Linked DNA regions of Homo sapiens. The protein of the gene in region 3 purifies or fractionates together with the protein of the main gene of each other region. This does not show direct contact. Each region holds a gene or a part of one and is shown on either strand. Other genes may lie near its edges. The genes, in order: RAB10, LCLAT1, TMEM63C, RHBDD1, ZDHHC18, UGGT1 and PLD1.

The links.
Region 1: the proteins of TMEM63C (region 3) and RAB10 purify together in Homo sapiens (affinity purification with mass spectrometry; one large-scale study listed by BioGRID and IntAct). This does not show direct contact.
Region 2: the proteins of TMEM63C (region 3) and LCLAT1 purify together in Homo sapiens (affinity purification with mass spectrometry; one large-scale study listed by BioGRID and IntAct). This does not show direct contact.
Region 4: the proteins of TMEM63C (region 3) and RHBDD1 purify together in Homo sapiens (affinity purification with mass spectrometry; one large-scale study listed by BioGRID and IntAct). This does not show direct contact.
Region 5: the proteins of TMEM63C (region 3) and ZDHHC18 purify together in Homo sapiens (affinity purification with mass spectrometry; one large-scale study listed by BioGRID and IntAct). This does not show direct contact.
Region 6: the proteins of TMEM63C (region 3) and UGGT1 fractionate together in Homo sapiens (co-fractionation; one large-scale study listed by BioGRID). This does not show direct contact.
Region 7: the proteins of TMEM63C (region 3) and PLD1 purify together in Homo sapiens (affinity purification with mass spectrometry; one large-scale study listed by BioGRID and IntAct). This does not show direct contact.

The regions. Positions count from the first base shown.
Region 1 is NC_000002.12:26,107,084-26,110,583, reverse strand, and holds part of RAB10 (ras-related protein Rab-10), read right to left. Parts: intron 817-3,500; coding exon 678-816; intron 1-677. UniProt on the Homo sapiens protein: The small GTPases Rab are key regulators of intracellular membrane trafficking, from the formation of transport vesicles to their fusion with membranes.
Region 2 is NC_000002.12:30,641,986-30,644,725, reverse strand, and holds the end of LCLAT1 (lysocardiolipin acyltransferase 1), read right to left. Parts: 3' UTR 501-2,740; downstream 1-500. UniProt on the Homo sapiens protein: Exhibits acyl-CoA:lysocardiolipin acyltransferase (ALCAT) activity; catalyzes the reacylation of lyso-cardiolipin to cardiolipin (CL), a key step in CL remodeling.
Region 3 is NC_000014.9:77,247,798-77,251,297, forward strand, and holds part of TMEM63C (osmosensitive cation channel TMEM63C), read left to right. Parts: intron 1-549; coding exon 550-712; intron 713-969; coding exon 970-1,075; intron 1,076-1,493; coding exon 1,494-1,661; intron 1,662-3,500.
Region 4 is NC_000002.12:226,842,554-226,846,053, forward strand, and holds part of RHBDD1 (rhomboid-related protein 4), read left to right. Parts: intron 1-3,500. UniProt on the Homo sapiens protein: Intramembrane-cleaving serine protease that cleaves single transmembrane or multi-pass membrane proteins in the hydrophobic plane of the membrane, luminal loops and juxtamembrane regions.
Region 5 is NC_000001.11:26,829,688-26,833,187, reverse strand, and holds part of ZDHHC18 (palmitoyltransferase ZDHHC18), read right to left. Parts: intron 742-3,500; coding exon 581-741; intron 1-580. UniProt on the Homo sapiens protein: Palmitoyltransferase that catalyzes the addition of palmitate onto various protein substrates, such as CGAS, HRAS and LCK. Acts as a negative regulator of the cGAS-STING pathway be mediating palmitoylation and inactivation of CGAS.
Region 6 is NC_000002.12:128,171,200-128,174,699, reverse strand, and holds part of UGGT1 (UDP-glucose:glycoprotein glucosyltransferase 1 precursor), read right to left. Parts: intron 3,496-3,500; coding exon 3,416-3,495; intron 2,128-3,415; coding exon 1,938-2,127; intron 920-1,937; coding exon 761-919; intron 1-760. UniProt on the Homo sapiens protein: Recognizes glycoproteins with minor folding defects. Reglucosylates single N-glycans near the misfolded part of the protein, thus providing quality control for protein folding in the endoplasmic reticulum.
Region 7 is NC_000003.12:171,677,984-171,681,483, forward strand, and holds part of PLD1 (phospholipase D1), read right to left. Parts: intron 1-3,500. UniProt on the Homo sapiens protein: Function as phospholipase selective for phosphatidylcholine. Implicated as a critical step in numerous cellular pathways, including signal transduction, membrane trafficking, and the regulation of mitosis.

The DNA.
Region 1 (3,500 bases), on a different chromosome or scaffold from region 3:
TAAAGTTTTAAAAAATTACTACCGGACATTTCATTCATTCAATAAAAATTTATTAAGAAAAAATTCATTTCCAGAAAATCATTGTAAAATCACTGGTAGCTTCTATTTGGGGTCATCTTGTAAGATGGCTATACAGAGTTTTGGAGTAATTTACTAATTGTCTTGAATGGGGCTCTAGATAGACTGTCCAAAAACTTAAGAAAAAATTAGCAAATAACAACATTAACTTTTTTTTTTTTTTTTTTGGAGACGGAGTCTTGCTCTGTTGCCCAGGCTGGAGTGCAGTGGCGCAATCTTGGCTCATTGCAACCTCTACCTCCCAGGTTCAAGAGATTCTCCTGCCTTGGACTCTTGAGTAGCTGGGACGACAGGTGCACATCACCACACCCAGCTGATTTTTATAATTTTTAGTAGTGATGGGGTTTCACCATGTTGGCCAGGCTGGTCTTTAGCTCCTGACCTCAGGTGATCCTCCCACCTCAGCCTCCCAAAGTGCTGGGATTACAGGCATGAGCCACCATGCCCGGCCAACATTAACTTTTAGAAAATAGAAATACTTCAATAATAATGACTTCAACAGTACATTATATCCTGAAGATCAGTTGGAATATTTATTCTTCCTAACCAAGCACACAAATGTGTGTTCATGAAGGGTTTATACAAGTTCTAGGTCTTACCTCATCTATGTTTCTAAGCCATTTGCTGATGTTTTCAAAACTTTTACCATTGGTGATGTCATATACTAGCATGATACCCATTGCGCCTCTGTAGTAGGAGGTTGTGATGGTGTGAAATCGCTCCTGGCCTGCTGTATCCCTGAAATAAACAGCCAATAATTTCTATTAAGCATTTTGATATTACTACATTTCACATAAAGGACAAAACAAGAATAGTTTTTCCTAAGTATATATAAAAACTTTTTAGTTGAAGGAAATTAATAACCTACCCATACTGGATGAAAATCTGAAAGGGAAAACAGTAGGAAGTGACACATAAAACTCAAGTTTATTGAATAAGCACTAGCAAACACCATAGAAACTCTTAAAATTTCATTTTATTTAATAATTTAGTTCCATAATGTAACACAAAAGCAGGTAGGATTTTTAGAACATTAGAGAACTATACCATAGTACAGTCATATTTACATTTAGAATCATTAACCAAAAGTTGTAAAGATAACCTCACTTATAAATAATAAGACAGAAATGTAAATAGTAGTATTTTCCATTATTTAATGCTTAAAGCCAAAGGTGTAAGATGTATTTTGCTCCTGTAACTATGCCCTCTCATTTGTATCATCATTTTGCTCTTTTATGGATCATCTCATCAGCTTACAAACATGTTTTAGTATCTTTTTTAAAAAAGCAAAAATAAGGTCGGGCGCAGTGGCTCACACTTGTAATCCCAGCCCTTCGGGAGGCTGAGGCGTGTAGATCACTTAAGGTCAGGAGTTCAAGACACTTGGCCAACATGGTGAAACCCCATCTCTACTAAAAATACAAAAATTAGCCCGGCATGGTGGCACGTGCCTGTAATCCCACCTGCTCGGGAGGCTGAGGTAAGAGAACTGCTTGAACACAGGAGGCACAGGTTGCAGTGAGCCAAGATGGTGCCACTACACTCCAGCTTGGGTGACAGAGCGAGACTCCGTCTCAAAATAAATAAATAAATAAATAAATAAATAAATAAATAAATAAATAAATATAAAGCAAAAGACCCCAATCTCAACCCTGTATCTCTCCAACTATCCCTGCTCCTCTTTCGAGTTAATATTTTTAAAACTTTTATTTTGAAATAATTACAGCCTTACAGGAAGTTACAAAACTGTGCAGAGAGGTCCTGGGTACCTTTCACCCAGCTTTTCCTAATGATAACATCTTATATTACTGCAGCATAATAGCAAAACCAGAAAATGGACATTGGATACAATCTACAGACCTTATTAAGATTTCAGGGTTTTTTTTTTTTACATGCACTTATTTGTGTATGTGTGTATATATAGTTCTCTACAATTTATTACATGTACAGATTTGTGTAACTACCACAAGACAAAGAACTATTACATCACCTCTTTACTCCCCATAGTCCCTAAACTCTGATCAATAATCTGTTTTCTATGTTTATATTTTTTTCATTTCCAGAATGTTACGTAAGTGGAATCATGTAGTATGCTACCTTTTGAAATCGGCATTTAACACTTCTTTCACCATAATGCTCTTGAAGTCCTCTCAAGTTTTGCACATAATCCTGGTCTGTCCCATTTCATTGCTGGGTAGCATTCTATGGTATGTCTGTATCACAATTTGCTTAATTATTCACCCATGGAAGGACATTCAGGGTTGTTTCCAGTTTTTGGCTATAACAAAGTTCGAAGAATATTCATTTACAGGTTTCTATGTGGACATAATTTTTCATTTCTTTGAAATAAATGCCCAGGAATGTTATTTATGGGTAATATGGTAAGTGTATAACGGTAAGAAACTGGCCAACTTTTTCCAGAGTGGCTCTATCACTTGACATTTGCACTAGCAACATATAAAAGATCCAGTTTCTCTGCATCCTCACCAGCATTTGATGCTGTCACTTTTTTATTTCTGTAGTTCTAAGAGGGCACATAGTAATATTTCATCATCACATTAATCTGTATTTCCCTGTGGCTAAGATGGTGAACATTTTTTCATGTGTTTATTTGCCATCCACATGTCCTCTTTGGTGAAATGTCTGGTTTTTTTTTTTGCCCATTTTCTAATTGGATTGTTAGTTTTTTGTTTTTGGGGTTTTTTTTTTGAGATAGAGTTTCGATCTTGCCGCCCAGGCTGGAGTGCAATGGCACAGTCTCGGCTCACTGCAACCTCTGCCTCCTGGGTTCAAGTGATTCTCCTGCCTCAGCCTCCCAAGTAGCTGGGATCACAGGCGCCCACCACCACGCCCAGCCAACGGTTGTATTTTTAGTAGAAATGGGGTTTCACCATGTTGGCCAGGCTCGTCTCAAACTCCTGACCTCAGGTGATCAGCCCGCCTCAGCCTCCCAAAGTGCTGGGATTACAGGCGTGAGCCACCGTGGCTGGCCTGGATTGTCAGTTTTTTTGTCTTTTTACTGCTGACTTTTGAAAGTTCTTTTTATACAGAAGTCCTTTGTCAGATACACTGGCTTGTAAATATTTTCTCCAAGTCTGTAGCTAGTCTTTTCATTCCCTTGACAGGGTATTTTGTAGAGAGGAAGCTTTTAATTTTGTGAAAGTCTAATTAATTTACTGATTTTTTTTTCTTTTACAGATCATGTGTTTAGTGTTATGTCTAAGAATTCTTCACCTAGTCTTTTTTTTTTTTTTTTTTTTGAAACAGGGTGTCGCTCTGTTGCCCAGGCTGGAGTGTAGTGGCACGATCTTGGCTCACTGCAACCTCCGCCTCCCAGGTTCAAGAGATTCTCCTGCCTCAGCCTCTGGAATAGCTGAGATTACAGGCACGTGCCACCACATGCAGCTAATTTTTATATTTTT
Region 2 (2,740 bases), on a different chromosome or scaffold from region 3:
CCCATTACAAGAGGCTCCGTGATTCTCATGTGTTTGTCTGTTTGCTAAGCACATTTTTATACATTTGTCAGATTTTGGTCCAAGATTTGCTTTTATAGTTATATACTCCCCAACGTGAGGTCAGGGACTGGAGCACAGAGTCCCACTTATCTTAGGTAAGAGTTGGTCATGCTGATATTTATATAAGATCCCACATTTGTGGAACAACCAAATTGTTCTCAATAGCAAGGCTGTGCTAAGAGATGGAGGAAAATCAAGTTCTGATGACATTCGTTGAGTCCTTAATTCAATTGTGGTGCCTGGACTTTTCCTATTATGGAGGTAGTACATTGTTTTCTTGATTAGGCCACTTTTCTTGACATCTGTGGAAAAAAGAGACCTAACTGGCCAGGTTTTTCCTTAACACTAGACACTGCAATGCAAGGCATTGTGGGGAAAAAAGTAGCACCTTAACTTGCAGTTACTTGTTATTCCTGCAAAAACAGAACGTAACACACATGTAAACTATTTAATTCACTCCTTTATTCTGGGATGTATATTACAGATAACACAACTCACAAATATACCATCAGACATTGAAAACTAAGGCCATTCTGTGAGTTATTTTTAAAACTTGGTGTTTTGCACATAATGATCTTAAAAAAAAATGAATTACCAAAACCAAGATTCTCTTCTAAAATGAAAATTTAATGCAGGTACAGGATAACTTTAGGGCTATATCTAATCTGAAGCTTATCAGGTAGCAAAACCATTTTCGTTTTCTACAGCATAAATAACAGCTCTAAGGCAACCACTACCTCAGCATGAAGCTCATTTCTCCACGTTAGAGTAGTGTTTACCTGCTACAGTGACCAGTGTTTAGAGACCATTTCCCTTTCAGTAGCAAAAAGAGACTTTACCTAAGAAACACACTACATACTACAGAATCCTTGGAACAAGAAACAGAAAGGGAGCTGTAACTAAGGCACTGAAAGCACATTATTTGTATAAAGAAATGTAAACAATTTAACACCAACAGGCTCCCTCCGTTGGAGTCTTTATTGTAAATGCACACAGGGGCATCATAGTCAGGGCTAGAGTTTGAAGTCTGGGTGAAACAAATGTTTCTGCAGAGTTCAGAGTCTTGGCTGCCAATATATTTCTAACATGGTGCTGTTGAATTAACTATTTCAAAGTGACTCAAGTGGAAGCTGGTATTTCCCTTGAATCTGAGTTTTAATAGCATTAACAAACAAGGAAGAATTTTATAGGAGTCCTAAAATTACGGGCTCTTTCTAACATTTATTTGAGTCTTTTATCAAGTTCTTCTAATGAATTTTAGGATTATTTTGGCTTATTTCATCAAGGAAGTTTGGTGTAAGAACTTGTTACCTAATGAGTGCCCCTCCTTGTAAGTTCATATTTCAAGTTACATGGTTCATGCCATAAATAAACCACACTTGCTTTAACATCGTTCAGAATGGTACATTTAACAATTGGACATACAGCACTGTAAACAATTCAAAGTCCATTGAGCTTACCATGAAAGAACTGAAACGTATGTAGGAACTGTGTCCTGCTGCAGACAAGCAGCTGCTCTGGCTCTGGTGCGGTGCGGTGCAGTGAGGTGAGGTGGGCAGGTGTGGAAGGGAGAATTCCTGAGGCCAGTCACAATTATTGAAGCTAAATTAATTTCTTCCTGACACTTTAGCATTAATTCTAAGTAGTTCTAAGTTCTAAACCATTAACTGTATAGTTAATTTTTTTAAATCAAAGAAGAAAAAGGCTTTCACACAGATGAATGTATAGGAAAACACAAGTAATGACAATTTTCAAGAGCCTTATTGTAAAAAAAGAAAGAAAGAAAAAAGGACAATTATTTTTGGAGTTACTGTCTCTAATTCTTAAAAAGTAAGTACAGTGTCTGTATCTCTAAGTTTTAGTGCTATACAGCACTAAATGTACTTTATGAATTTGGGGTAGGTAAAGTTTGTATTTTATCTTAAACATGTTTTCTATGATGAAAAGGAACAAAATTGTAAAAAATGAGGATCTTCCCTCTAAAGGTTTCAAAGCGTTAGAGGACATGCAATTAAATGTTGTTACACCTTGAACAATGAGCCTCTTGAGTTTGTAGGAAGGGCAGACCGGCTCCATTACCAACAACTTTGGGGTAGAAAGCACAGCTCTCCTCTTTTACCCAGCACAAATGCAATCCTGATTATAAAACTATTTGTGTTTCTAAATACAACCAAAGGAAATCTTAGAGAAACATAAATTAGAAACCTCTTTTATTAAGGGGAAACAACAAAAAAAGGTGCTTTTTTAAAAAAAAAAAAAAAAAAAGAAAAGAAAAAGAAAAAACAAGCTGTAAAACCATGAAGTTAAAGAGCTGGGTCTGGAGCAGATGTGCATAATAACTAGTTAGTTGCTCCCAGCAGGATCAGAAACAGCTTTGGGGGAGCAGAGGAATATGGGTTGGTGTGTTTCAGAAGAGGCACCAGTTAATACTCTTCCAATAAAAATGATGTGTCAACAGTGTTCAGCCTCAACCAGTGCTTTCTCACAGAATCTGCTTGGTAAGTTCAGTTCACAATGTGTTTACCTTTCATGGCAATGCACGATGCAATTATTGGGTAGGTCACTGTCAAGCAAAAACGAGATATAATTACAGAGAAGGCATTAATGCCCAAAGAGTACATAAAGCAGTAAGTAGCTTCTGAGGCTGGTTCAATGCAGAAGTAAAACTAACAGGTTTGCT
Region 3 (3,500 bases):
TTTCACCATGTTGGCTGGGCTGGTCTCAAACTCCTGACCTCAGGTGATCTGCTCACCTCGGCCTCCCAAAGTGCTGGGACTACAGGTGTGAGCCACCATGCCCTGCCGTATTGCCCACATTCTTAATGCAAGAAAATGCTAAATTTCAGTTAGAGATTAGTGAAAATAAAGATGTTATTTTTTCCCATCCTAGTTTACAGACCCCCCAGAAACCCACTCATGGATTCTCCCGAGTCTTTGGACCTGGCTCAGACACCCTTGCTTTGGATCAAGCCAATGCATGTATCCCCTAACACACCCATGCTTTATGTGGTCCCTGCCCCTCCCTGCTCAGGGGACTGCTTGTTAACTTCATTGGGTTGGGGACATATATATTATAGGAGAGAGACAGAGAAAAAGAAAGAGAGGAAATGTTATTCTCCTTGTCTGTATCTGTATCTCCACTCCGATTCCCATTCCCTCTGCTGCTCTCCTCTCTCTCCTCCCTTTTAACATCTCTCCCTCTCCCTGTGGCTTCTGTTGCCACCTTCCCTCTCCCTCACTGCCCAGGTGTGTGTTCCTGCCAGACAACGGCGCCTTCTTTGTCAACTACGTGATCACGGCAGCTTTACTTGGCACAGGCATGGAGCTGCTGCGTCTGGGGTCACTCTTCTGCTACAGCACCCGCCTCTTCTTCTCTAGATCAGAGCCAGAGAGAGTCAACATCAGAAAGGTACAGACTGGCTCTCCGCTGAGCACAGCCCTCAGTTTCCTTTGGGAGGGTGTCAGGGATAGAGCCTGCTAGAAGCACCAAGGGGGTTGAGGTGGGAGGGACGGTGTGGATGGGTGTTGGTGGGGCACCTTGGTCTACAGGGTTGGAAAGGAGGCTGCCTCCAGGCCTGAGCTGCCAGGAGGCTGATGAGGAGCCACAGAAGTAGTCAAGCCAAGGGGACTGGGCCACCTCAGGGTGACACCTGCCTTCTGCCCCAGAACCAGGCCATAGACTTCCAGTTTGGGCGTGAGTATGCGTGGATGATGAACGTGTTCAGCGTGGTGATGGCGTACAGCATCACTTGCCCCATCATTGTGCCTTTTGGTGAGTCATCTCCAAGGCATGCCCAAGGGCTGCACATCCGCAGATGGGGAGGAGGAATTGAGCCTCACAACATCAGTCCACCTCCTGGAGCATGGGGAGACCTGTGGTAGGGAGGGGTCAGGGCCAGGGCCAAGCTGGGGGTACAGGGCAGCTGAGGTTGGATGGCTGCCGATGGGGGATGTTTGTTGAATGAACGCATGAGAGAATGACTCTTCACCAAGCTGAAACAGTCAGTTCTCGGGGCTCAAGGGAAGCTGCTGGCTCCGGAGGTCAGTACCACGGAGCTCCCCCAACCCATCCTTGGTTGTTGTGACTCTGACAGCCGTGGATCTGGCTTCTCAGGCCTGTGGAGACACTGGAGCCACAAAGGTCCAGACTTGAAGGGGCCACTGAGTAAGTTTCCACCTTTGTCCCCCAGGGTTGCTCTACCTGTGCATGAAGCACTTGACGGATCGCTATAACATGTACTACTCCTTTGCACCCACCAAACTGAACGAGCAGATCCACATGGCTGCCGTCTCCCAGGCCATCTTTGCGCCACTCTTGGGTCTGTTCTGGATGCTGTTCTTCTCCATCCTGCGGTTGGGTAGGTACCAAGCCAGCCTGGAGACCCCACCTCCACCTGCCCCACTGTTCTGTGAGTCCCTTAACACTGACCCTGTTAGAGGAGAAAAGCCCAGGCAGGGCAAGACGCTGCTCACCAGACCTGGCCACACCCAGTGACTTCTCTGGGCCTAAAGGGCCTACATTAGAGTCTCAGCTGAGCTTCAAGGCTAAGAGGAGGCCCTGGACCAACATGGTCCCCAGGTGTGGATTTGGGTTTCCAGCGCTCAGGGAAGGAAACCTCATATTCCTTCTTTCTAAGTCTAGACGGGTGGAAAATAGAGTATCAGCTATTGGGAGGCTCAGTTCCCATGACATTTCCTCTGGGATCCCATAAGATGCCTGGTTTTTTGTTTTGTTTTTTAATTTTATTTTTTGAATCAGAATCTTGCTCTGTCGTCTAGACTGAAGTACAGTGGCGCGATCACGGCTCACTACAGCTTTGACCTCCTGGTCTCAAGCAATTCTGCCACTTCCCCCTCCCCAGTAGCTGGGACTACAGGCGTGAGCTGTCATGACTGGCTAATTGTTTTTAATTTTGTAGAGATGAGGTCTCACTATGTTGCCCAGTCTGGTCTGGAATTTCTGGGCTAAAGCGATCCCCTGGCCTAGGCCTCCCAAAGTGCTGGGATTATAAGCGTAAGCCGCCGGTGCCTAGTGGTAGATGCCTGGCTTTATGGGTTGCCAAAAAACCTGGAAGAGGAAACAGAGCCTGCAGTAGGGGCCAGCTTTTTCCTCACTCTTTAGCTACACACAGCTACTGCTCCTGCCCAGGGGAGCTCAGAGACACCCTCCCAGAAGCAGTCCCTGCAGGCCACAGATTAGAAATCTCTCAGCTTTCTCCCCGTTGGAGGCACCTTAACCCCCAGCAACCCCCAACCCCACTGCCCTTCCCTCAGACACCTGACCTTAACCTTCTCAGTGGTGGGAGAAGGGAGACGCGGTGTTTTCTTTCTTTTTTTTTTTTTTTCTTTTGTTTTTAGAGACGGAGTCTCGCTCTGTCGCCCAGGCTGGAGTGCAGTGGCCTGATCTCGACCCACTGCAACCTCCGCCTCCCGGGTTAAAGCTATTCTCCTGCCTCAGCCCCCTGAGTTGCTGGGACTACAGGCGGGTGCCACCACGCCCCGCTAATTTTTTGTATTTTAGTAGAGACAGGGTTTCACCATGTTGCCCAGGCTGGTCTCGAACTCCTGAGCTCAGGCAATCCGAGGCAGTGTTTTCTTTTCTCTCCCTGCCATGGTGGCATCCATACGGTCGACTCTCAGTCATTTATGTGGCTTACCCATTTGCCATCACCCCCAATTGCTTATCCCGCTAGCCTTTCCCTGCCACCCCAGAGACTTCATTTTTTCCATAATGCTTTTTTTCTAAGAATAAAGGACTGCATGTTTATCATCAAAAATAGAAAAAATATAAAGACCAACATGTAAATGACCCATCATCTTACCCAGAACCTGATGTCTTTTGTTCCCAGCCCCCTTTCCAGGCATGCGCTTTGGGGCTTTGGGCATGGGAACATTGAGAGGGAGCAGTTGGTCTATTGTTACTTTGCAAAACTGCGATAGTCCATATTGTAACATTCAGTCCTGTACCCTGAGGTTTTGTACTGAACACAATGTTCTGAGCAATTTCCTAGGTTGTTAAAAGACTGAACACGTAGGTGCCTTTCAGCGGTTGCATGAAAGTCTACCAGTTTTAGTCAGTTCTCCGTGATTGGATATTGAGGTTTGCCACTTTTTGCTACTATAAAAACACTGCAGTAAGCATCATTAAGCAGTGATTTTTGGCTGTAAAGCATAATTTAAACAACATTTACCTAGTT
Region 4 (3,500 bases), on a different chromosome or scaffold from region 3:
ATTTCTTGTTTTGGCCAGGTTTGTCAAAGATCAAGTTGTTGTAGTTGTGTGGTCTCGTTTCTGAGTTCTCTATTTTGTTCCATCTGTCTATGTATCTGTTCTTGTACCAGTACCATGCTGTTTTCGTTACTGTAGCCTTTTAGTATAGTTTGAAGTCTGGTAGTGTGATGCCTCCAACTTTGTTCTTTTTGCTAAGAATTGTTTTGGCTACTTGGGCTCTTTTTGATTCCATAAAATAGTTTTATCTAAATCTGCGAACAATGTCAATGAAAGTTTAATGGGAATAGCATTAAATCTATAAATTACTTTGGGCAGTATGGCCGTTTTCATGATATTGATTCTCTCTGTTCATGAGCATGGAATGTTTTTCCATTTGTGTCCTCTCTAATTTCTTTGAACAGTGGTTTGTAGTTCTCCTTGAAGAGGTCTTTCACTTCCCTTGTTGGCGGTATTCCTAGGTATTTTATTCTTTTTGTAGCAGTTGTGAATGGGAGTTCATTTATGATTTGGCTTTCTGCTTGCCGGTGTTGGTGTATAGGAATGCTAGCAATTTTTGCACATTGATTTTGTATCCTGAGACTTTGCTGAAGTTGCTTATCAGCTTAAGAAGCTTTTGGGCTGACACAATGGGGTTTTCTAGATATAGGATCATGTCATCTGCAAACAGATAATTTCACTTCCTCTCTTCCTATTTGAATACACTTTATTTCTTTCTCTTGCCTGATTGCACTGGCCAGAACTTCCAATACTGTGTTGAATAGGAGTGGTGGGAGAGGGCATCCTTGTCTTGTGCTGGTTTTCAAGGGGAATGCTTCTAGCTTTTGCCCATTCAATATGATATTGGCTGTGGGTTTGTCATATATGGCTCTTATTATTTTGAGGTAAGTGCCTTTAATCCCTAGTTTATTGAGAGTTTTTAACATGAAGGGATGTTGAATTTTATCGAAGGCCTTTTCTGCATCAGTTGAGATACTCATGTGGTTTTTGTCTTTAGTTCTGCTTATGTGATGAATCACATTTATTAATTTGTATATGTTGAACCAACCTGGCACCCCGGGATGAAGCCAACTTGATCGTGGTAGATAAGTTTTTTGATGTGCTGGTGGATGCAGTTTGCCAGTATTTTGTTGAGGATTTTTGCCTTGAGGTTCATCAAGGATATTGGCCTGAATTTTTCTTTTTGTTGTTGTATCTCTTGCCAGGTTTTGGTATCAGCATAATGCTGGCTTCATAGAAGGAGTTGGGGAGGAGTCATTCCTTTTCAATTGTTTGGAATAGTTTCAGCAGGAATGATACCTGCTCTTCTTTGTACCCTGGTAGATAGAATTCAGCTGTGAATCCATCTGGTCCTGGGCTTTTTTTGGTTGGTAGGCTATTTGTTACTGTCTCAATTTCAGAACTCATTTATTAGTCTATTCAGGGATTCAATTTCTTCCTGGTTCAGTCTTGGGAGGGTGTATGAGTCCAGGAATTTAGCCATTTCTTCTAGATTTTCTGGTTTATGTGCATAAAGGTCAGCAGCTAAGTGAGCTCTTGAGGTTTGGGGAGACTTGGTAGATCTGGAAAACTCTTCAAATTAATGCTGTGAGAACCAGCTTCAAAAGTTGTTGGTCACATAGTTTCTCAGCACAACTTTTAAATTCCAGGGAAATAGTTATTATTCCAACTTTGGTCACTATCACCTTGGATCAGTATTGGAAATGGCACCCTTGATTGATAGCTGCCCCCCGCCCCCCGGCCCCTTGCCAAAGACCGCATCCAATGGGAGTGGGAGACAGATTCCTGTTACTGAAAGAATGAAGTATTGATGCTATGCAGGCAAAAAGCCCTAAGCTGTTCCCTATCACTTAATAATTTGTGGACATCCCATGTGGTTTGTGGTAATATAACATATATTTGAAGCATGGCATGCTTTTCCCCCTTTTCACTAGTTGTTGTGCAGGGAAGACTTGAGTTACATAAATAATTCACAAACACTTCTTACACAGATTAATTTAAATGAGAGCAGGGAGTGGTGGTAGCTCTCATTTTTTCATTGACTTTAGGTAGACAAAGAAATCTGGTGCAGAGTAAACCTGAATATGGAACTACTTAAATCCTGTTGAAGGAGCGATCATGGGACGCTGGCATTGCTGTTCCCTGTGTGCCTCCTGGTTTAAAAACCTAGGTCTGAAGGGCTGTCAGTTGGAGAACTTTAATGAGCCCTCATTACACTAAACCGTGTGGTTTATGAGAGAAGAAACTGGCTTATGATTGATACTGGAAATCATAAATGGTGATGGGTCAGAATTGGAGTTGGCACTAATTCACCTAGCAGTGGAGCAAAATTTAAGATTATATACAAAATCTGGTAATTTCATTTTTTAGCCATTATTTTTTATGTATAAATATAGTCTAATCATTTTCATTTATACTATATAACACTTTTAAAAGGTGGAGAAAGAATTTTGCCAGCTGATGCTGACATTTTTTTTTTCTTCCTAAAATGGAGGCTTATTAAATTCTCAAATCATCAGATAATCTTGACAGAGATCCTGGTTTGAGATTTTACATAAAGTTTATTTTAATGAAAAACATAATTTCTGCTTTCAGGTTTCTTCTCTATATTTGTTATACTTTTTAAAAAATGCATGTGTAATTTAATCACACTATGCAGTTTTAAAATGTAGGGTCACAGAAAGTCATGGAAAATGCTAATTAGTTACTATGTTATCACAAAAACATTTTAAAACTATTTTAAGTCTGATTTGTCACAATTTGTGATTTTGTGTAATAAATATATATACATATATAATCCCATTTAATCCTTGTGAAACCAAATGAGCCTATGTTATCTTTTACAAGTGAAACTCTGAAGGTTAACTTTCCTAAGAGCACGTGGCTGGTGTATCGTAGAGCCAAGGACCATGCCCTTAACTGCTGTCCTATGCTGCATATGTTAATATTGCCACCCTTGTATATAATTTTGGCAAAAAGCACTGGGACATTTCTTTTCCCAAAGCCCATCTCTTTACTTTCAGTTCCCTGACAACTTCTTTATATTCTGAAACTGTTAAAATGTGTTGTATTATCCATCATCTTGTGCTTCTGTTTGTTGGGAATGTGGCAACAGCTCCTGTATTGCAGCAGTGTGCCCTGTGAAGCCATTTGTTCTTTATGTCTTAGAGCAGCCTGACAGCCTTTCGTGTTAAATTCAGCAAGATTGCTTTTCATTTAACAAAGCTGAATGTTGCTTTCTAGGTGAAAAATAATTAAATGCTTTTAAAGATATATTTGATTAACAGGAAGCTGATCTGTGTAAATTAATTATAACCATAATGATGTCATAGCCTTGTCTTTTGTTATTAGCCAGGTAATTGACCAGAAGTTTAGAAGCTTATTGTAACTGACAGTTAGTAGTTTGACCTTGTGTGCTGTCTGAAAGTGAAACATGCACAATGAATGTAAATGCAATTTGTTCATTGAGCTGCATGTGCTGTCAGAACATCTGATCTTGGGTT
Region 5 (3,500 bases), on a different chromosome or scaffold from region 3:
CCTCCTCCTCAACTGTCAAGCTCCATGAGGACAGGGACTATTGTCAGTTTTGTTCACTGCTGTATCACATCTAGAAAAGTGCCTGGCACATAGTAGGGGGTCAATAAATGTTTGATGAGTGAATGAATAAGTGTATATGAATGTTTAAGAGCAGGTGCTCTAGACTGAGGTCTCATCTCAGCTCTTCTACTTACTTTGTGATCTTGGACCCTCTTTTGCCTTGATTTAATTAATCAGTAAAAGGAGAATGACAACAGTACCTACCTCATAGGATTACTGGGGGATTAAATAAGATCATGCATATAAAGAGCTTAAAACAGTGCCTAGCCCCCAGGAACTACTCAGCTCCACGCTGGCTGCCATCGGGGCCTTTGCTGGCTGGCCAGCATTTCTTGCTTACTTATTTGCTCACTTGTTGATCATCTGTCTCCCTCTGTGCCAGTGTCAGCTCCAGCCTGCCTTGCTCACGACTGCATCCCCAGTTCCTAGTATAGTTTTGGAAGAGAAAACCAGGCCTCCTCCCAAGTCAGGGAATGTGGAGCTATGGAGACCCAGCTTCAGCTGGGAGTAGAAACCTCACCGATCTGTTTCTCCAGGGCGGCTGCTTCACAGACAGTGGCCCGGGGCAGGATCCCAGGGTCGGTGAAGCTTGTCTGCAGCAGGCAGCTCATGACGAAGAAGAAGAGGATGGCAGCGATGATGGGGATGGCAAGGGTCAGCTTGCGAGCCAGGTAGGGACAGCTAGAACGAGAGATGGAGAGAGATCAGCAGACACCCCAAGGGCTCCCTGCGGCACAGGGCTACAGCACGTGGCAGGCGCTGTCATTCCAACAACCACCACCAAAATCTTGAATACAGCCTCGCTCTGAGGCAGAGGCACAGCTCCTTGATGAGTGCAGCCACTCCCCAATAAGTACCGGGAACAGACATCACTAATTGATCCTTGTGATATACTTTCCTCCAGAGCACATGGCAGATGTGTCCAATAGATCCCAGCACTCCTAACCTCTGCATCCAGAGAATCCCTCTACACACAGAGCTTCAGGCAGACACTAGTGGACTGTCACCTGAGACAAACCATCCTGCAGTGTTCATTCACTCATTCATTCACTCACTCAGTCCACAAATATTTACTGAGGTCTTCTCTGTGGCAGGCAACACCTTCAATAAGCAGCAGGAATAATGACGACGGATAAGACAAGAGTCCCTCCCCCTTGTGGCTTATGGTCTAGTGGGGAAAACAAGACATGTAAACAGGGAATTGCCACACAGGGTGATGTGTGCTCTAGTGGGGGAGGGGAACGCAGTAGCACAGTCAGGAAAGGCAACCTGAAGGAGACAATCCTAAGCTCCAACCTGAAGAATGAGTAGAGGGCTGGGGGAACTGCATGGTCCAGCCACTGTCACTGTGACCCAAGGTAGGCAGGTATCCCCAAGGCAGTGCTTTCAGACCCCCTGACCCTGGCTGCCTCAGAGAATAGCCTGTGCCTGCTGAATGGTCATGCCTCTGTCCCCCAGGGAGGCTGCCTACCACAGCCCTCTTCAAGCTCCCTCCTCCATCTTAGGGCTAGAACATTCTAGAAGTTCTGGACACTGGTGGGAGAATGGCTTCATGATAGTGAAGCTATCAGGGCTCTCTCTCTATGGCCAATCCTCTCTGTTGTCACCTCACTGTCCACCCAGAAGCCAGAGCCACTTTTGGAAATGTCAATCAGATCATGTCATTTCCCTGCTTAAAACCTCCCAATTGCTTTCCATATAGTTTGAATACAATCCAAACTCCCTACCATGGCCTTCTAGGCCAGGCATGATCTGGGCCCTACTGAGGACTTCAGCCTCATTCTACAAAACTCTCGTCTTGCTCCTGCTCCTCCCATCACAATAGCCCATGACAGTTCCTATAACAAGCCTGGCTCTCTCCTACCTCAGGGCCTTTGCACTTGCTGTTCCTTTTCTCAGATTCCTCTTCCCTCCTCAGAAGGACCTACCTTGACAACTCTGTACACAGTGAACTTCAATGCTCTTTCTTTCCTGTATAACATTTAGTATAGATTTCAGCTACTTGTCTATGTGATGGCTATTTTTCTCTCACTAAAACATAAGCTTGGCCAGGCGCAGTGGCTCACGCCTGCAATCCCAGCACTTTGGGAGGCTGAGGTGGGCGGATACCTGAGGTCAGGAGTTCGAGACCAGCCTGACCAATAAGATGAAACCCCATCTCTAATAAAAACAGAAAAATTAGCAGGGTGTGGTAGCATGTGCCTGTAATCCCAGCTACTCAGGAGGCTGAGACAGGAGAATCACTTGAACCCGGGAGGCAGAGGTTGCAGTGAGCCGAGATCGTGCCATTGCACTCCAGCCTAGGCAACAAGAGCAAAACTCTATCTCAACAACAACAACAACAACAACAACAACAAACAAACATAAAAAAACATAAGCTCCTCTGTGGGTATAGACTATGTTCTCTTGTTCAGCTTTATATTTCCAGCACACTGCACAGCACCTGGCACCAAGGACGTACCCGGTAAATAACTGCTGCCAGGGGACAGAAAAATAGCTACCATCTTTTGAAGGCTTACTATGTGCCAGACACTGCCCTAATTAATAAACTACTGTTAGCAACATCCAAAGTACAGATAGTTACTGTGCTATGTACAGATAGTTACTGTACTATGTAGATAGTTACTGTACTATCTACAGATAGTTACTGTACTACTGTACCTGGATGGGCCAGGTACCAGGCTAAGCAGTTCCTGTGTACTTTCTCATCAAATCCTCACTGGGACCCTGTGAAGTTATGCTCCCCACTTTACAGATGAAGAAACTAGAGCTCAGAGAGTTTAAGTAATCTGCCCAAGGTCACATGGCTCAGGAGTGCTAAAGTGGGACCCAAGCCAGGTCTGACTTTGAGGTTCATACTTTTAACCATCACCCCATAGCCAGAGTAGCACCTGATCAGGTAAGGAGATGACGGGGCCCTGGGAGGCCTGAGATCAACCAAGCTTCCAGGAGTGGCACAGTAGGCACACACCTGTGGGCACCTGCATGCTGCTTCTGAAGTCTCCGTCATCAGATGCTCTGGCCTTCAGAGAAGCCCTTCCCCTGAGGAGCAGACTGCCAAGGCCAAGGGCTCCCAGTGGGTCACACTCTGCTCCATACATCTCAATGGTTTCTGGGTCTGACCCTCAAACAGAACCAGTGGGCGCTCAGTGTCACCCACATGGCAATGAATCCAGTTCATATGCAATCAGACTTGTGTGGGGGGACAGAGAAGACTTGAAATCTAAGACTTGTAGAGCCTGCAGGAACCACCAAGTCCTAGCCTCCTGATTTGCCAGAGGCTAACAGCTCTCCCAGGCCCACAGCTAGGTTCAAGGTCATCTAGCCAGCCAATGACAGAACTAGGGTTTCCAGCCTCCCAGCAAATACACTGTCAATTAATTCAAATACACTGTCAATTCATTCATTCAATAAGTATTGAGCACCTACTGCATACCAGG
Region 6 (3,500 bases), on a different chromosome or scaffold from region 3:
TATTTCTGAAATATCAATCAACTATAATGTGAATAACACAGTAAACAAATCAATGCAACTCTTAAAAAACCAAAACTACACATTAAAAACTCTAGCACAGACCAGGTGCGGTGGCTCACGCCTGTAATCCCAGCACTTCGGGAGACCACGGCAGGTGGATCAACTGAGGTGAGGAGTTCGAGACCAGCCTGGCTAACATGGTGAAACCCCATCTCTACTAAAAAAGGACAAAAATTAGCCGGGCATGGTGGTGGGTGCCCGTAATCCCAGCTACTCAGGAGGCTGGGGCAGGAGAATTGCTTGAACCTGGGAGGCGGAGGTTGCAGTGAGCTGAGATCACACCACTGCACTCCAGCCTGGGCAGGAGTCTCAAAAAAAAAAAAAAAAAAACTAGTACAATAAAGGCCAGTCACACCAATAAATCATCTGCTCTTTAGCTGTGCTTCAGGGAAGAATCAACGTGTGATGCATGAATAAGTGTTGCACTTCCAAAGAAAAGAAAAAGGCTGTCAGCTCATGAGCAATCTATTTTCAGGGGGCCAATTCAGTTATAGCTGAGTATTCCAGCATGTTTTTTCTTTTGACATGTAATTCTAACCTACAAATTTAGCTGAACTAATGATTTCTATATTGACCAAATTCAGCCCATAATGAATTTTAATCTCACTCTATGGTTAAGAATGCTAATTGCTCCATCATAAATTATAGTGCCCAAATTAACGTAACTACAATATCACTATCTGATGAACAGATTATTTACCAGATTGGCCATAACAATGGTGTCCACAATGACCGGGTTGGCTGAAGTTCCTAAGGTAAACTGTAGTCCCCGTGGAGGCTGGCCTGTGGTGATGTCGTAGCAATGACCTTCCAGTAACAGGTATTCCAGCTCATACTCAGCAGCCACTACACTGTCCACCTGCAAGCCAAAATCCAATCACTTGAATGCACTCAGAGACAACATGAATAAATCTGAAATGCATTATGCAAAGTAAAGGAAGCAGACAAAAAGGACTTACATAATATATGATCATATTTTAAGAAATTCAAGAAAAGACAAAAGTATAATGACAGAAAGCAGATCAGTTGTTGCCTGAAACCAGGCGAGAGGAGGCTACTGTCTGCAAAGGGGTATAAAAGAACTTTTTGGGGTAATGGAAATGTTCTGCATCGTGGCTATAGTGGTGGTTAATGACTGTATACAATTATAAAAACTAGGTTGGAAAGAGAAAGGAGAAAAAAACAATAAGGACGTTATTCTAAAAATACGAACGAGGATAAGATACTAAATGTTGAAAAAAATTAAAGACCTAAATGCAAAGACATCCTGTACTCACGTATCAGTAGAAAAACTTGCACACAACATTCATAGCAGCATTATTCATAACAACCAAAAAGTGAAAACAACTCAAATGTCCATTCGTGAAAGGATAAATGAAACGTGATATGTCCATAAATAAAATATTATCTGGCAAGTTAAAAAGAGTGAAGCGTCGATACATACTACAGCATGGATGGATCTTGAAAACAATTTGTTATGTGAAAGAAGCCAGTTACAGAAGACCACATTTGATTCTATTTAGACAAAATGTCAGAATAGGCAAATCCATAGAGATACAAAGTAGACCAGCAGTTGCCAGGGGCTGGGGAAATGAAGAGTGACTGCTAATGAGTATGGGGCTTTCACTGGGGATGCTGAAAACATCCTACAATTACATAGTGGTGATGGCTGCACAACTCCGTGAAGATACTAAAACCTCTCAACTGTACACGTTAATGGGGAGAATTTTATGGTATATGAGTTCCATGTGAATAAAGCTGTTGTTTAAAAAAATATCATACCTGAACACTGATGTCTCAGAGGCCCACCTAGACTATGATTCAATCTGCTGTATTATACATGATTAGGTATTTGGAAGCAATAGATATGGTCTTACCTCTTCTAAATAAATATTATCAAGATCATATGGTGTTCTGACAGATTCTACCATCCAGCTCTCAGGTGTGTTCAAATTCAGAGTGAACAGTGGAGACTGAGGCATATCCAAAAATTTTGCGATTGGACCCTTAGCAAAACTATTGTCTGAAGTGAAAGAAATCTCTGGTTCTAAGACATAACGGTAAAAGCTGAAATTGAAAAGGAAAGTGTTAGATAATTTTCGATGTGACAACAGGACTTGAGTGCACAGCCCTTACACAGGTAACAACTGGTTAAAACAAATTAGATTTGGAGGAGTACCCTTCCAGATTGGGAAAAGTGTTTCCAAAACCATCTTTGACCTTATGATGCCTCCTTGTGGTTGCTGCAGATGCAAGAAAAGGCAAACAAGGACAGCACTGAGGAGGAGTGCTCAGTGGTGGCCTGTGGTGATGTCGTAGCAATGACCTTCTAGTAACAGGTACTCTAGCTCATACTCAGCAGCCACTATACTGTCCACCTGCAAGCCAAAATCCAATCACTTGAACGGAGGCCACTCGTTCACATGGATGGCTGTCAGGGTCACAGTTAGGTCCTGGGCATTTTCCTCCCTTCAAGGAGGACTCATTTTTCTCTTTAAAACCAATTCCTAAATACTGATTGGGCTCTCAGGCTAGTCCTGAAAACACTAATAATGTAAACATTTCCCCTATACGAGAATAATGGTGGAAGCTGGGAACCCTTTGGTTACTTTCAAATGCTGTTTCAATCCACTTAGAAGCTAACCTATAAAACACAGCACACTGGCAAGTTAGAAATTTCCCATAGCCACAACGCTAACTGCTTTCTGTATCACTTTTTTCATAAATGACCATTCCAAAGCTCATGACAATATATAGCTAAGCAAGCTTCCTCTAACATGTATATTCCAACTTGAAATGAATATTCTTCTTTTAAGATGAAAAGCACAAATGGGGCCAGGCGTGGTAGCTCACACCTGTAAACCCAGCACTTTGGGAAGTGAGGCAGACGGATCACTTGAGGTCAGGAGTTCGAGACCAGGCTGGTCAACATGGTGAAACCCCGTCTCTACTAAAAATACAAAAATTAGCTGGGCATGGTAGTGTGCACCTGTAATCCCAGCTACTAAGGAGGCTGAAGCAGGAGAATCCCTTGAACCCGGGAGGCAGAGGCTGCAGTGAGCCAAGATCATGCCACTGCACTCCAATCTGGGCGACAGAGCGAGACTCCATCTCGAAAAAAAGAAAGAAAAGGCACAAATGCAAGCAGCCTGGGTTAATGCCACCTAAATGCTACAAACACACTATGTTCTTAGAACTTCTGATTAGAATGAAATTTGGCAAAACTGAACATTTAGTAAATGACCATTTCAAACATGATGTCCACCTATAAATCCATCTGATCCTCTAACATGCAATATCAGAACTTGGATTCAGTACAATTTCTTCAACTGTTTTCTTACATAGCATGTTTTACCTTTTTAAAGGCATGTCAGAAAGTTTGGATTGGCAGTTCATAAATACTCTCAGATTCATGTTTATCAGCTGAGCCAAAACCTAGA
Region 7 (3,500 bases), on a different chromosome or scaffold from region 3:
AGAACTATCACAGAATTAACTGTGAATAAAGAACTCACAAGGTGGCACTATGAGAGCAGTAAAGCTGGTGGGGGGCTTTCAGGGGCAGAGTGGGAAGGGCGGGGAGGGGAGAGGTGGAGAAACCTGAGACGCAGGGGCAATAAAGACACCATGCCACTTCTTTTTCCTCAACCAACATGGTGCACACCTGATGCATAATTCTTTTGCATTAAAGCAAGAACCTCAAATTTACAGATAGCCCATGTTCCAGCCCTGGAATTAATTAGCTAAGTGACACTGAGCTTCAGTTTTTTAGATCATAAATCCATTATGCGTAAAATGAAGAATTTGGCCTAGATAACAGCTAAAATCTGTTGCGCTTTAACATTTATATACTTCAAATCATAGATGGCATTTATAAAAAATATGGTAACAACAGATGAAAGCTTATGATATAGGTGCAAAAGCAGCAATCTACTATAGCATTTCACAAATAACTGTGCCGAGACCATTGACTTACGGCTAAATACAAAGACAATGAAGTAAAAAGATGCAGAATTACAAATCACAAACGCAGCACTTGGCACAAAAGAGGCATTTAACAAATAGACACTGAATGCAAAAATATGTGTTGAATGAATAAATGGTACTGCTTGCAGTAGCCAGTGAGAGGACTACACTGGTCCTGCCACCAACACACTGTCCCAGAACTGTCTTTGTAAAATGCACTCTTTGCTTAAAACCCTGGAAGGTTCACATACTGCCTATAGGAAGCTCAAGTCCTAAGGGCTTAGTGTGCATAGAAGACTCTTCCCAAACTGGTGCCAATCTATCTTTCTAGTCCTTGTTTTTCCCCACCCAACCCCAGGCCCCATGCAAATCACGTGTTTCACTGTATTATAACAGGTGTGGACTGCCATGTCTCCATGCAGTTGGCACATTATTACTTCTACCTGAAATGCTCCTTTCTCCCTCTTGGCCTGATATCCTAATCATCCTTCAAGAGCCACATTAGCTATCACCTGCCATCTCCCCATAAGGAAGAGGCAGTCACTAGCACTGCTGTCATCCCACTAACAACTGCCCCAACACCTCTGACTCTGTGACGCAATTGTATCAGGATGCTCCCCTGCCCGCATCAATGCCTCACCAGTCTATAAACTCTTTGGGAGTGGGAACCAAATCTTCTCACTGCCAGTAGCTCCAAGCACCCAGGCAATCAATAAATATTTGCAGAACAAATGTTTTTATGTAATCACCACACACAATGCTAATATTCTATCTCAAACTGAATCATTAACCTTTCAAAGGCTATTAAAGTTTTCTACAGAAGAAAAATGATTTAAAATGCCATAGATTAGCAAAATGAAATCATGTTAAAAATAGACTTCTATTGACTTCTCCCAGTGATTTATTTTCCTGCTTTATGAGACTGAAAGGCCAAAGTACGGGTAGGTCTGTTTGCTCATCTATAGGCTCTTTATTGTTTACATAGCACTTTGTTAAAAGAAGAAAAGAGGGTGAGAAAAGAAACAAAAGGGATGAAAAATGAGATAAACAATATTTCAAATTTCAAATATAAAATACACATATACAATTTGCTTTCATCAACTGCAAAACTCTAAGCTAAGGCTTTACATAAACACATATACACTCATTTAAAAATTATCTTTCACCTAACAACCAGTTATGATAAGGAAAATAAAGGAAATTCTTAGTCTCAGGAAATTATCTTGGTACTAATTGAATTCAACCTGCTCATAATTCAAATTTGTTTTTGTTTTTAGCCATGGCCTAAAAACTATTCCACATAAATTAGGGTTCCTCCTCAGTACAAATGAACTATTAAGGCAATAGAGCCAAATACTAGTTCCTGTGAAAACAGTAGCTCAGAATTACATGAGTGTGGTCGAGAGGACTTATGGCATCAACAATGCTGATCCAAGGGGGTCTCGTTAGGCTGCTATCTGGCTCCCAAATGATTTCATAATTGCACCTGCCTTGTCTTTTGGCACAGATTTGTCAGGCCAATTTTCTGCATCCTCCTCTGTCAGTGGCTCAGATTCTGGCTACTAAAGTTTATGAGAAGGGGGACTTCTTGTTCCTTGCCTGGTGTCCTCTGGTCGTGCCACATCCTCCTCCTTCTATTCTCATCTCTCGGCTTCCAGGTCTCCATTTTTCTACCATTTCTCCAGCCTATCCTTGTTCTTCTTTCCTAGCTCCTCCTCACTAACAAGGTTTCCCCCTTTCTCCTGTCTTTTTGTTTTCTTTTTCTTCCTCTTTTTTTTTTTTTTTTTTTTTTTTTTGAGACTGGAGTGCAGTGGCACGATCTCGGCTCACTGCAACCTCTGCCTCCCAGGGCCAAGTGTTCAAGCAATTCTCCTGCCTCAGCCTCCCGAGTAGCTGGGATTACAGGCGCACACCACCATGCCCTGCTAATTTTTGTATTTGATAGTAGAGACAGGGTTTCACCATGTTGGCCAGGCTCATCTCGAACTCCTGACCTCGTGATCTGCCTGCCTCGGCCTCCCAAAGTGCTGGGATTACAGGCGTGAGCCACCACACCCGGCCTCTCCTGTCTTTTTCTATACAATTTCTAAAATGTGCACCTGCAAGGATGGCTTCTGTTTTGGACTCCAAATCTAAGGTCACTTCCAGTGCCTCACTTGACATTGTTTACCTAGTTCCCTCCAGAACTTTAAAATTATGTCTAACACTAAAATCATCATCATTCCATAAAATCAAGTCTTTCCTTGAGATTTCTGCTGTCTGTGTGTAGTAACTCAAGCTCAAACCTCGGAATCACCTTTGGCTCCTTTATTCTTCGCTGACTTCTCCACCCACCTCCCCACGGCTTCCCAGATCATGATGAAAATCTGCTGATTCTGCTTTTGGAAAAAGTTTCTCCCATTTACTTCGTTCTTGAACTCACTGACACAACCTTGTCAGACTCCCTGTGTCTCTACTATAAACGCTATAAAGCCTCACCCTTAATTGCTCCCTGCCCCTAGGGATTTTCCAACATTTAATGGAAGAGGTGCAATGTCTCAGTCTGATTTTCAAAGTCCTCCGTAAACTGCTACAGATATATCCCACCAGCTCAATCTGCACAAATCAGCCCTTAACCACAATTCCAAAACTCCAAAAGTTCTAACAATTCAAATGTTTTTTCATAGCTGATTTTCACAGCTCATTTCATAACTCACAGGTCAGCAAAATCTGACCTGAACTGACAAGAGGTTATTTATTATCTTTATTGATCCCACTTGGTGTTGCACAAACATAAATGGTTTGCCTACATTCCAGGTATTTCCTGGATCCTGCTGGGAGTGTAATATAGTAGAGGGTATAGGTATTGTATTACCTTTCTAAAATCCAGAACTTTCTGATTTCTGAAATCTGATTCCAAGGATTTTGTATGAGAGATTATAGACCTATATGTATTTACCACATTCTACACTCAGTCTGAGATGCCGAAATAAATACTTTTGCATTTCCTATATCTGGGTCTTAAGATGTAG